Homo sapiens: one gene and its partners. Changing the gene in region 2 together with the main gene of any one other region gives a genetic interaction. Each region holds a gene or a part of one and is shown on either strand. Other genes may lie near its edges. The genes, in order: TCOF1, DDX18 and RIT1.

What was found.
Region 1: changes in DDX18 (region 2) and TCOF1 together harm fitness more than expected from each alone (negative genetic interaction), as found in Homo sapiens cells (one large-scale study listed by BioGRID).
Region 3: changes in DDX18 (region 2) and RIT1 together harm fitness more than expected from each alone (negative genetic interaction), as found in Homo sapiens cells (one large-scale study listed by BioGRID).

The regions. Positions count from the first base shown.
Region 1 is NC_000005.10:150,374,498-150,378,221, forward strand, and holds part of TCOF1 (treacle protein), read left to right. Parts: intron 1-119; coding exon 120-314; intron 315-456; coding exon 457-666; intron 667-841; coding exon 842-1,057; intron 1,058-1,223; coding exon 1,224-1,412; intron 1,413-1,584; coding exon 1,585-1,833; intron 1,834-1,925; coding exon 1,926-2,123; intron 2,124-3,724.
Region 2 is NC_000002.12:117,828,182-117,831,905, reverse strand, and holds part of DDX18 (ATP-dependent RNA helicase DDX18), read right to left. Parts: intron 2,958-3,724; coding exon 2,901-2,957; intron 2,618-2,900; coding exon 2,440-2,617; intron 1,325-2,439; coding exon 1,182-1,324; 3' UTR 1-1,181. UniProt on the Homo sapiens protein: ATP-dependent RNA helicase that plays a role in the regulation of R-loop homeostasis in both endogenous R-loop-prone regions and at sites of DNA damage.
Region 3 is NC_000001.11:155,904,850-155,908,349, forward strand, and holds part of RIT1 (GTP-binding protein Rit1), read right to left. Parts: intron 1-3,500.

The DNA of each region.
Region 1 (3,724 bases), on a different chromosome or scaffold from region 2:
CCCTTACTCCCCTCTCACTGTGTGGCATCATTTGCCCTATCTGGTCTTCTGTACGTGGTGTCCTGTGTCTCCTCACACGTCCATCCTCTGGGCTGTCTCCCCTTGTCTTGTTTCTCCAGGCGAAGGCCTCAGGAAAAACCTCTCAGGTCGGAGCTGCCTCAGCCCCTGCCAAGGAGTCCCCCAGGAAAGGAGCTGCCCCAGCGCCCCCTGGGAAGACAGGGCCTGCAGTTGCCAAGGCCCAGGCGGGGAAGCGGGAGGAGGACTCGCAGAGCAGCAGCGAGGAATCGGACAGTGAGGAGGAGGCGCCTGCTCAGGTGAGGCAGAGGGGAGGGGTGGAGAGTAGCCCCATGCCTAAACCCCAGCACCTGCATGGGTGTGGCCACCTTTGCCACATCCAGCTCCTGTCTCCACACGTCCACCCTCTGGGCTCTCCCCTCATCCTGTTTCTCACTCCAGGCGAAGCCTTCAGGGAAGGCCCCCCAGGTCAGAGCCGCCTCGGCCCCTGCCAAGGAGTCCCCCAGGAAAGGGGCTGCCCCAGCACCTCCTAGGAAAACAGGGCCTGCAGCCGCCCAGGTCCAGGTGGGGAAGCAGGAGGAGGACTCAAGAAGCAGCAGCGAGGAGTCAGACAGTGACAGAGAGGCACTGGCAGCCATGAATGCAGCTCAGGTGAGGCTGGAAGCCGCCCTGCATGGCCTGTGCCCTGCCTCAAAAGACCTCCTGTGGTTTTGACTTTTCCTCTCTGAACCTAGAGCCCTGTGCGGCTGGCTTCGTTTGCTCTCCTCCCCTCACTCACATTCTCCTTCTGGACTCCCTCCCTAATCTTGTCCTTTGTGTCTCCCAGGTGAAGCCCTTGGGGAAAAGCCCCCAGGTGAAACCTGCCTCTACCATGGGCATGGGGCCCTTGGGGAAAGGCGCCGGCCCAGTGCCACCCGGGAAGGTGGGGCCTGCAACCCCCTCAGCCCAGGTGGGGAAGTGGGAGGAGGACTCAGAGAGCAGTAGTGAGGAGTCATCAGACAGCAGTGATGGAGAGGTGCCCACAGCTGTGGCCCCGGCTCAGGTGAGGCCCCTTCCTGTAAGGCTCTTTCTTTTTCCCCCCCACTCAGAGTGGAGCTGCCTGTGGCCTCCCAACCTCACACTGGGACTCTGTCTACAATCTTAGTTTCTTAATGTCTGCACACACCTACCCTGGGCTCCCTCTCCCGATCCTGTGTATCTCACTCCAGGAAAAGTCCTTGGGGAACATCCTCCAGGCCAAACCCACCTCCAGTCCTGCCAAGGGGCCCCCTCAGAAGGCAGGGCCTGTAGCCGTCCAGGTCAAGGCTGAAAAGCCCATGGACAACTCGGAGAGCAGCGAGGAGTCATCGGACAGTGCGGACAGTGAGGAGGCACCAGCAGCCATGACTGCAGCTCAGGTGAGGCCTGGGGAAGGAGGCTGCTACATGGCCTGATCTGCCACACCACAGTCAGCACCCCCGGGGAGCTGTGCTCCCTCAGGCAGAGCATGGGTTTTGGCTGGTGGGGCAGAACAGATGGGGGACTCTGAGTTCAGGAACCTTCTCCAGCCTTTCTTTGGTGTCCCCTCAGGCAAAACCAGCTCTGAAAATTCCTCAGACCAAGGCCTGCCCAAAGAAAACCAATACCACTGCATCTGCCAAGGTCGCCCCTGTGCGAGTGGGCACCCAAGCCCCCCGGAAAGCAGGAACTGCGACTTCTCCAGCAGGCTCATCCCCAGCTGTGGCTGGGGGCACCCAGAGACCAGCAGAGGATTCTTCAAGCAGTGAGGAATCAGATAGTGAGGAAGAGAAGACAGGTCTTGCAGTAACCGTGGGACAGGTGAGGCCTGTGTTTTCTGGGCGGGCCTCAGGGCCGCCCCTACGTGGTCCTTTGGACTCCTGGAGACACCTCTCTTCCCCTTGTCATCCCAGGCAAAGTCTGTGGGGAAAGGCCTCCAGGTGAAAGCAGCCTCAGTGCCTGTCAAGGGGTCCTTGGGGCAAGGGACTGCTCCAGTACTCCCTGGGAAGACGGGGCCTACAGTCACCCAGGTGAAAGCTGAAAAGCAGGAAGACTCTGAGAGCAGTGAGGAGGAATCAGACAGTGAGGAAGCAGCTGCATCTCCAGCACAGGTGAGGCCTAGAAGGAGCAGGCCCATCCCACCCACACCTGTTCCTGAGCCAGGGCTGAGGATGGGCTTGACTGGGGGCTAGTGTTGCCTGCAGGTGTGCAGAAGCCTCAGAGGTAGCCTCAACACAGCTTCCTTCCCTATCTTTCACTCCATGTCTCCTCTGCCCATCAGAGCTCCAGGGTCTCTGTCTTGTTTGCCTTTTGAGGTCCTCCTGCTGATTGATTCCCTGTGGTTTTCACAAGCTCTGGAGTTCCCACCCTGCCAGGTGCTGCCCTTGTCTGGGGTTGCTGAGGCGCTGTTCCTCAGGGAAGTCCTGTCTCTGTGGAGCATGGACATGCTCCTGCAGTGTGGAGCGATGGGGTTGAGATAGAGGGTGTGAGCCTGGGCTGCGCAGCATGACAGGTGAGAGCATCTAGGCCTTTTACAGGAGGTGGCAGCATCTGAGCCATGGGCTGAAAGAGTTGGCCAGGTGAAATGGGCAGGGAGAGTGTTCCAGGCAGAGGAAGCAGTCTGTGCGAGGCCAGGGAATGAGAGAGTGCCTGGCTTGGGTGCCTTGCCACAGGCGGCACATTGTGGTGGGATGGCTGGCAGTTGTTTAGAGCCAGACCGCCTGGGTTCAAGTTTCAGCTCCACAGCCTGGCAAGTGCTGTAAGCCCTCAGAGCCCTTACTCTCCTATAAACAGGAAATCAGCCCTCACAGGTTTGGGTGAGAATTTAGGTGAGATCTCACCTGCTACACCCAGCAAGGGAGCTGCACACAGCAAGTTGTCTCTGTCACCCTGACGATGGGCCAGGCTAATGTGGAACAGATCAGGAGTGAGGTCTCCAAGCCTGGAAGAGCTGAGAGAAGATGGCTCACTCCCTGCACTCACCCACCCACTGTTTATTATTTTTAATTGTCGCTCTGTTTTTTTCTGTAACCACTCAGAAATTAGTCATTTCTTTTTTCTCTGTACCAGAGCACACATTTCTACTGATTTTTTTTTGTCCTCCTCTCGTTGACTTGTGGGACCTCAGGGCTCTAGAATTCCTCCATTGAGGTTTTTAAGCTCTGCAGGGGCCCCTTCCAGAGCCGCCTCTACTCTTTCCCAAGCTGCAGGCACATTCCAGACCCAATGCCTTACAGAGTTTCATTATGCAGCTCACTTAAATATTTGTCTTCCCTTCTGAGCCTCCCACCTGTACCATGAGGTGGGTGTTTTATTTTTATTTTTTGAACCATGGGCTATTTTGAAGTAAGCCGTTTAATTTCCAAATATCTGGGATTACCCAGGTTTCTTTTTGTTGATTTCTAATTTAGTCACATTGTGGTTGGAGAACATATTTTGTATGATTTAAATCCTTTTTTGTGTATTGAGACTTGTTAGGTCAAGTCAGTCTTGTGTCTTGTTTCTTGTGGAAAACATGGCTCCCCTCTGGAGGATTTACGTGCTCTACTGATGAGCACCTCGGCCTGAGTCATACTTGGTCCACACTGTAGGGAATCTTCTTGAAGTCCTGATTCTTCACCTCATTTGACCTCATGTGTTTGAGGAATGCTGGGGGATGGGGTTGTTTTCTGACACTGACCAGATGCCATCCCTGAGTGAGGCAGGGGCCTTG
Region 2 (3,724 bases):
ACAGCAAAATGATGCTAGCAACTTTGGCTTTGAACTGCTACAAAATGTACTATCTTGTAGTTATATACTGTACAAAACACACTAGAAATCAAGTGCTCCTACAACGAAAAACTCATCTGACTAAATCACTGATTTTGCTGTTTTTTTTTCTAACTTTGTTCATTTTCAATCTTCACAGCAAATGTATTTTTTGTTTCAGGGCCTGGAAGAGGTATTTTTTTCTCAGAAAGAAGCTAACATTAATGTGTGCTGGGCACCGTCTGACAGCTTGGCTCTAACTCCAAGTAAGTTGCCCTTGTCTTCTAAGTACTCTACAGAGTGCAAAGGCTTACCAAATCCAAACCACCTTGAATTAAACAAATCTTAATGAGGAGCATCATCGTTCTTTGTATGAAAGTCTTTGTTATGTTACCAAATGAAGAAATGCAGTACATTACACCTCTATTGATGTAAATGAGGCTCAAACATCTCAATTCCATCCTCTTCCTACCCCCCAGCCATCAAACGTTATAACTGCTTAGTGACACTTTATTCAAATTACAACCCATAGTTTTTGCTCCAAAAAATGCAACACCTGAGAAAGGCCTGTTGCTTTAAAATCAAGAATCTATAAAAGCAATGCCACCCTAATCTTAAGGTGCTTCTTAGGTATTTCCCAAAGCTCTTTGCTCTTTTATACTGCAGCATTTTCAGGAGGAGTCATTAGATACTGTCAAGGTCCAAGAAATAACTAAAAACAAAAAATAACCTGAGACTCTTTTCTGCACCGCCACCAGCTGCCCAGTACACTAGGTCACCTTTTACAGCAGTGAGCACAGCAATCCATGCCACAAAAATCTTCGCAAAACAAGAAGGAAAGGTACAAAAAGAATTATATTAAAATGGTAACATACACTTGTATGAGGGAGGGATATTTAAAATTAAAATATTATCATCACAAGAAACACCAGATATTCCTTGCTCTGCCCTTGGGCAACCAAGAAACTTAAAGCCTGTTTTATATCCCAGAAATAAAAGAGAGACGTGATAGAAGTAACAGTGCTCAGTGCTTGCAACCCAAGTCAATTTATACTCTTGTTAGGTAAGTCCAAATTCTAAAGTCTACAAAAATCCTGTTAAATCAAGGGGAAAAAAAATTCATTTTAGGACAAAGTTATTCAAGATGAAAGGAAGGCATGTGTTCAGTGAGAGAACTGCCTGCTGTCAGATGATTTCTTGCTAATGTGTTTAAAGATTTTGGATTTCTCAACTTTCTTGGTTTTCTGGTAGCCAAATCCACCACCACCTCCTCGCTTTTTCTGCTTGCCTTCATTACTGTTGACGTCTGGAGGCAAACATTAAGGAAATCAAGCAAAAAAGATAATGAACTCCAATCTAACATCTACACAGAGAAAAAAACCGGCATGAACACTACTGTTCCTCCACAACCCCATTCTCAACAATGAAAATGTGGGAACATAAGCCTATGCAATAAATTTCCAGAAAATTAGGAGTGGCCACGTGACTGTGGACTTAAATTAGCAGGTATGATTTTAAACTTCGGTGTGTAATAGTCATATTAATTATTTCTTCCACACGATGAAATTCATGACAGTGAATAAGGATTTATGAGTTTAATCAGGAAGTTGGTAGGAGCACATTAAAAAAACACCTCCTGTGTCAAAACAAATGACTATCATTTCTCTTCGGAATTGATTTAGGAATGCCTAAGTGAAGGAGCTGCTCTTCCTTCCACAGGACTCGACATACATTCATTTCAGCTGACATTTACTCAATGCTGACAATGGGGATGGTGACCCAAAATTTGGTCCTCTAGTTCCCTCAGAAGTTACCCCTATGGCACTGAAGCACAGGCCTCATTTCAGCTGCTCAGTTTCTTCTTCTGAAAGGCACAAATTATAAATCACAACTGAAGCAACTGGAAGTACTCCTGCCTTTTATCTTAAGCAACACCTAAGTTTTATTTTCTTTTGCTGAACTTGCCACTTTCTTGCATAAAATCCTTCAGGGGTTCTAAGATGATTAAAACTCCTTGAAAGGTCCCATCCTCTCTTTAGCTTCAAAACACCCCATTCACCTAAGTACCCTGCACAGTGCAGCCTCAGCAAACACTGAAGTTTTGATTTTTTTAACCTGTGTTTCTGCCTGGAACACACAACTGTCTCTGTCTCTCCTTGACAGTCAAATTTCTTTGTCTTTTGAAGGCTCAAGGCATAAGCTGCCTTGTCCCTGTAACCCCATCCTAATGATTAAGCCCTGCTTACCCCATCCAACCTCTATGTCCTGTGCTAGCACAGAAAAGCAGACATCGACCAGGGTGAACACTGGAGCCTCCAGTCTGAGCCAGAACACATACCAATCCACTGCAAAGCCCCAAATGCCCCTCTGTCAAGCTTTTGTTCCTTAGTCACAGGATAACTTCATTAAAGAAAAGGATACTCAGATCAACGAAGGGAGGCACCTTGAAACCAAATGACAGAGCAACCTGAGGCAAATTTAGGTTATTAACATTAAAGATCTGTTTCAGAGAATGGGAATCATAGGCTCGTATGTATGACTTATATGCTTCCTGGGCTGACTTATGAAGAAAGTAATTCTTTTCAATCAATTTCTCAAGCTGAAATAGAAAGAAACACTGGTTTTAATAAACAAAAACAAACAAAAACCTCCAAAACACCAGATTTTAAATATCCTAGAGCAAAGCCACTCCATGGAAAACATTTAAAGAGGGCACAGAGTGGTGATAACTAGAATAGCAAGAAACCTTATACACTACACAGCCTGATCCTCACTTTAGGACAGGGTAGACTTCAAAGGACAGTGATTGCCCAGTGAATCACTACAAACAGAGTGCTGGGACAAGGTTCCTGTTTACTCACAAACGTTTAAAAAGCACATACCTGAGACTGAATGTCAGAAATTTTAGACCAGGAAAAGTCAAATTCACTTAATGGAACCTAGAAATCAAAAGTATTAAGATTAGTAAACCAGGATGATCAGCATTCCGATACTGGGTACTGAAGACAGGGAAGGATGAACCGGCCTATGAAATTCCCTCAGGACAGAAAGGAAAATCTGCTTTTTCTAGTCTCCCAATGTTGATGGGAAAGTTACATCTTTGCTCTGCTGAGTTAGGCAATCTGCACTTCTTTCTTTCTGAAAGGCAAGGAACTGGATAGGGACACAGTCAGTAAAGCACTTTTCTGTAAGAATCTCTATAATCCTGACTATTTGCAACCATGAATCAGCTTGAAGCTTCTAGTCAGAAGGGCCATCAGCCCCTTTTCTCCATGTCAGAAGAGGGGCCCTAATACCCCCACAGTCCTGTATTGAGGCTTGTGACACTGGAGGCCATGATGACCACAAACTCCTACAGGATGGATCTGCCATCAGTTATCACTCATTAGATAACTAGAAAAGCAACAGGCCTGTGCCAGGTGCTAGAGAGAAAATAGGTACCTAACTCATGGACTCTGCCCTCAGAGAGCTTGCCGTCTTGAGGGGGAGAAAGATAAGTAATGAAATGTCAACCTGTAGATTCTGGATATTAGCCCTTTGTCAGATAGGTAGATTGCAAAAATTTTCTCCCATTCTGTAGGTTGCCTGTTCACTCTGATGGTAGTTTCTTTTGCTGTGCAGAAGCTCTTTAATTAGATCCCATTTGTCAATTTTGGCTAGGACTAATATCCAGAATCTACTAAGAACTTAAACAAATTTACAAGAA
Region 3 (3,500 bases), on a different chromosome or scaffold from region 2:
AGAAATGCCTATTTAAAACTCATCTTACAGAGTAGTACATTGTATCCAAATTCATTAAATGCCCACATTTTCTCAGGAAGCATGCTAAATCCACTGAGATACATAAACTGAGTCTTCAACTGAAGTTTTTTTTTCCACATAGGTGATGATGTAGTTTATTCACAGCTGAAGATTTCACCTACAATTCTAAGCTAAAAAAGGATTCTGAGAAGATGTCTTTCTTAAAAAAATTAGGCTATCTGGGCACAGTGGTGACTGCCTATAATCCCAGCTACTTGGGAGACTGAGACAGGAGTATTGTTTGAGCCCAGGAGTTCAAGACCAGCCTGGGCAACACAGCAACAGCTCATCTTTTTTTTTTTTTCTTGAGACAGGGTCTCACTGTCACCCAGGCTGGAGTGCAGTGGTGCAATTTCGGTTCACTGTAGCCTTGACTTCCCAGGCTCCAGTGATTCTCCCACCTTGGCCTCCCAAGTAGCTGGAACTACAGGCGTGCTACCACCATGTCTGGCTAATTTTTTTGTATTTTTGGTAGACATAGGATTTTGCAATGTTGTCCAGGCTAGTCTCGAACTCCTGGGTTGAAACAATCCTCCTGCCTTGGCCTCCCAAAGTGCTGGTATTACAGGTGTGGGCCACTGCACTCAGCCGAGACCCCATCTCTTAGGGGAAAAAAAAAATTAGGCCTGAAAAGTAACTTTACCATTTATTAAATTGTTATTATCTACCAGACATTATACTAAGTAACTTATATATATTAATTCTTCAATAATCACAATAATCCAATGAAGTAGGCATTATTACCTCCATTTTACAGCTAAAGAAAATTCAACTTGAAAATATTAATGTCTTCTCTAAATTAGTTAATTAGTGACAGAATGAGGATTAAAATCCAAGATTGCTGAACTGAAAAGCATTATTAACCATGTGTTATACTTCCTCCTCAATACTACAAAAAAGGAAAAAAATATATAATTCACTATTTTTTTTTTTTTTGAGACAGGCTCTCACTCTATCACCCAGACTGGAGTGCAGTGGCATGATCTCGGCTCACCACAACTTCTGCCTCCCAGGCTCAAGGGATTCTCCTGCCTCAGCCTCCTGAGTAGCTGGGATTACAGGCACATGCCACTATTGCCCGGCTAATTTTTGTATTTTTAGTATAGACAGGGTTTCACCATGTTGGCCAGGCTGGTCTTGAACGCCTGACCTCAAATGATCCACCTGCCTCAGCCTCCCAAAGTGTTGGGATTACAGGCGTGAGCCACTGCACCCGGTCTAACTGACTATTTTCTAAATAATCCACAGTTTCGTAATTTCTCTTTTCTGAAAGCAAATTTCTTTATGCATATTACTATAGTAACCTTGGAAAATATAGAAAACTAAAAAGAAAAAAAAAGCCACGCAATATTTCATTCACTTAACAACTGCTGCTTACATCTCAATGTATTTCCTTTTAACATTTTTTCTTGAATTCCTGCTTCTGTCTCTTCCTCAAAGATGAAGAGCTCATTAAATCAATGCTTCTCAATTATTCATTAGGATTAGTGAGTTGTGAAATCTACTTAATGGGCCGGGACCAGCATTAAAATAAACAAGCAGAAACCTAAATAAAAATAGAAAATACCAGGCCAGGCACAGTGGTTCATGCCTGTAATCCCAGCACTTTGGGAGGCTGAGGCGGGTGGATCACCTGAGGTCAGGAGTTCAAGACCAGCCTGGCTAATGTGGTGAAACCCCATCTCTACTAAAAATACAAAAATTATCTGGATGTGGTCACAGGCGCCTGTAATCCCAGCTACTTGGGAGGCTGAGGCAGGAGAATCGCTTGAACTGGGAGGTGGAGGTTGCAGTGAGCCAAGATTGTGCCACTGGACTCTAGCCTGGGCAACAGGAGTGAAATTCTCCGTCTCAAAAAAAAAAAAAAAAAAAAAAGAAAAAAAGAAAAAAAAAGAAAGAAAATACCAGAGTGGGTGAGGTACAGTGGCTCTCACGCCTGTAATCTCAGTGCTTTGGGAGGTCCAGGTGGGAGGATCACTTGCGCTCAGGAGTTTGAGACCAGCCTGGGCAATAGAGCGAGACCTCATCTCTACTAAAAATCCAAAAATATTAGCTGGGCTTAGTGGCCTACGCCTGCAGTCCCAGGTATTTGGTAGGGTGAGGCGGGAGGATCACCTGAACCCAGGAGGTCCAGGCTGCAGTGAGCCAAGATCACAACACTGCACTCCAGCATGGGCAACAGAGTGAGACCCTGTCTCAAAAAAAAAGAAAAGAAAAGAAAATATCAGAGTGCACCAGATGTAGTGAGGTAAAGTTTCATAATATTTTAGCTACACATACACATGCGCTTGTGTATATAATTTATATATACATATGCACACATTCATATGCTTTTTTTTTTTTTTTTTGAGGCAAAGTCTCACTCTGTCGCTCAGGGCGGAGTGCAGTGGTGCAATCTCGGCTCACTGCAACCTCTGCCTTCTGGGTTCAAGGAATTCTCCCACCTCAGCTTCCTGAGTAGCTGGGATTACAGGCATGCAGCAGTAACACGCCCAGCTAATTTTTGTATTTTCAGTAGAGATGGGGTTTTACCATGTTGGCCAGGCTGGTCTTGAACTCCTGACCTCAGGTGCCTTGGCCTCCTAAAGTGCTTCGATTACAGGATTGCAGGCTCAGGATTACAGGCGTAAGCCTCCGCACCCGGCCTTGTATGCTTTTATATCTCTACCAGTTACAATGTAAAGTTTTTCTGAGTTTACAGCCAGAGCTTGAAATCAAATGCACTAAATTAGAAACTCAAGAACAGAAACCTCATCTTTTTGATCACCACTGTACCCTGAGGGTAAGCAGTGCTTGGCACATAATAGAAACTCAGAAGACATAAGTATTTGCTGTTGAATCAGATAATATTGCCAGGAGAGTAGTTAACTGGAGGAAAATTGATTAAAACAGATAACTTGGCCGGATGCGGTGGCTCACGCCTGTAATCCCAGCACTTTGGGAGGCCGAGGCGGACGGATCACAAGGTCAGGAGATCGAGACCATCCTGGCTAACACGGTGAAACCCCGTCTCTACTAAAAATACAAAAAATTAGCCAGGCGAGGTGGCGGGTGCCTGTAGTCCCAGCTACGCTGGAGCCTGAGGCAGGAGAATGGCATGAACCCCGGGGGGGCGGAGCCTGCAGTGAGCCGAGATCATGCCACTGCACTCTAGCCTGGGCGACAGTGAGACTCCATCTAAAAAAAAAAAACAAAAAAAAAAATACAGATAACTCTTACAGGAGACGAGTATTTGAGTTTTACTTTAAAGAAAGGGAAAGACGCGGCCGGGCACGGTGGCTCACGCCTGTAATCCCAGCACTTTGGGAGGCCAAGGCAGACAGATCACGAGGTCAGGAGATCGAGACCATCCTGGCTAACACAGTGAAACCCTGTCTCTACTAAAGGTACAAAAAATTAGCCGGGCGTGGTGATGGGCCCCTGTAGTCCCAGCTACTCAG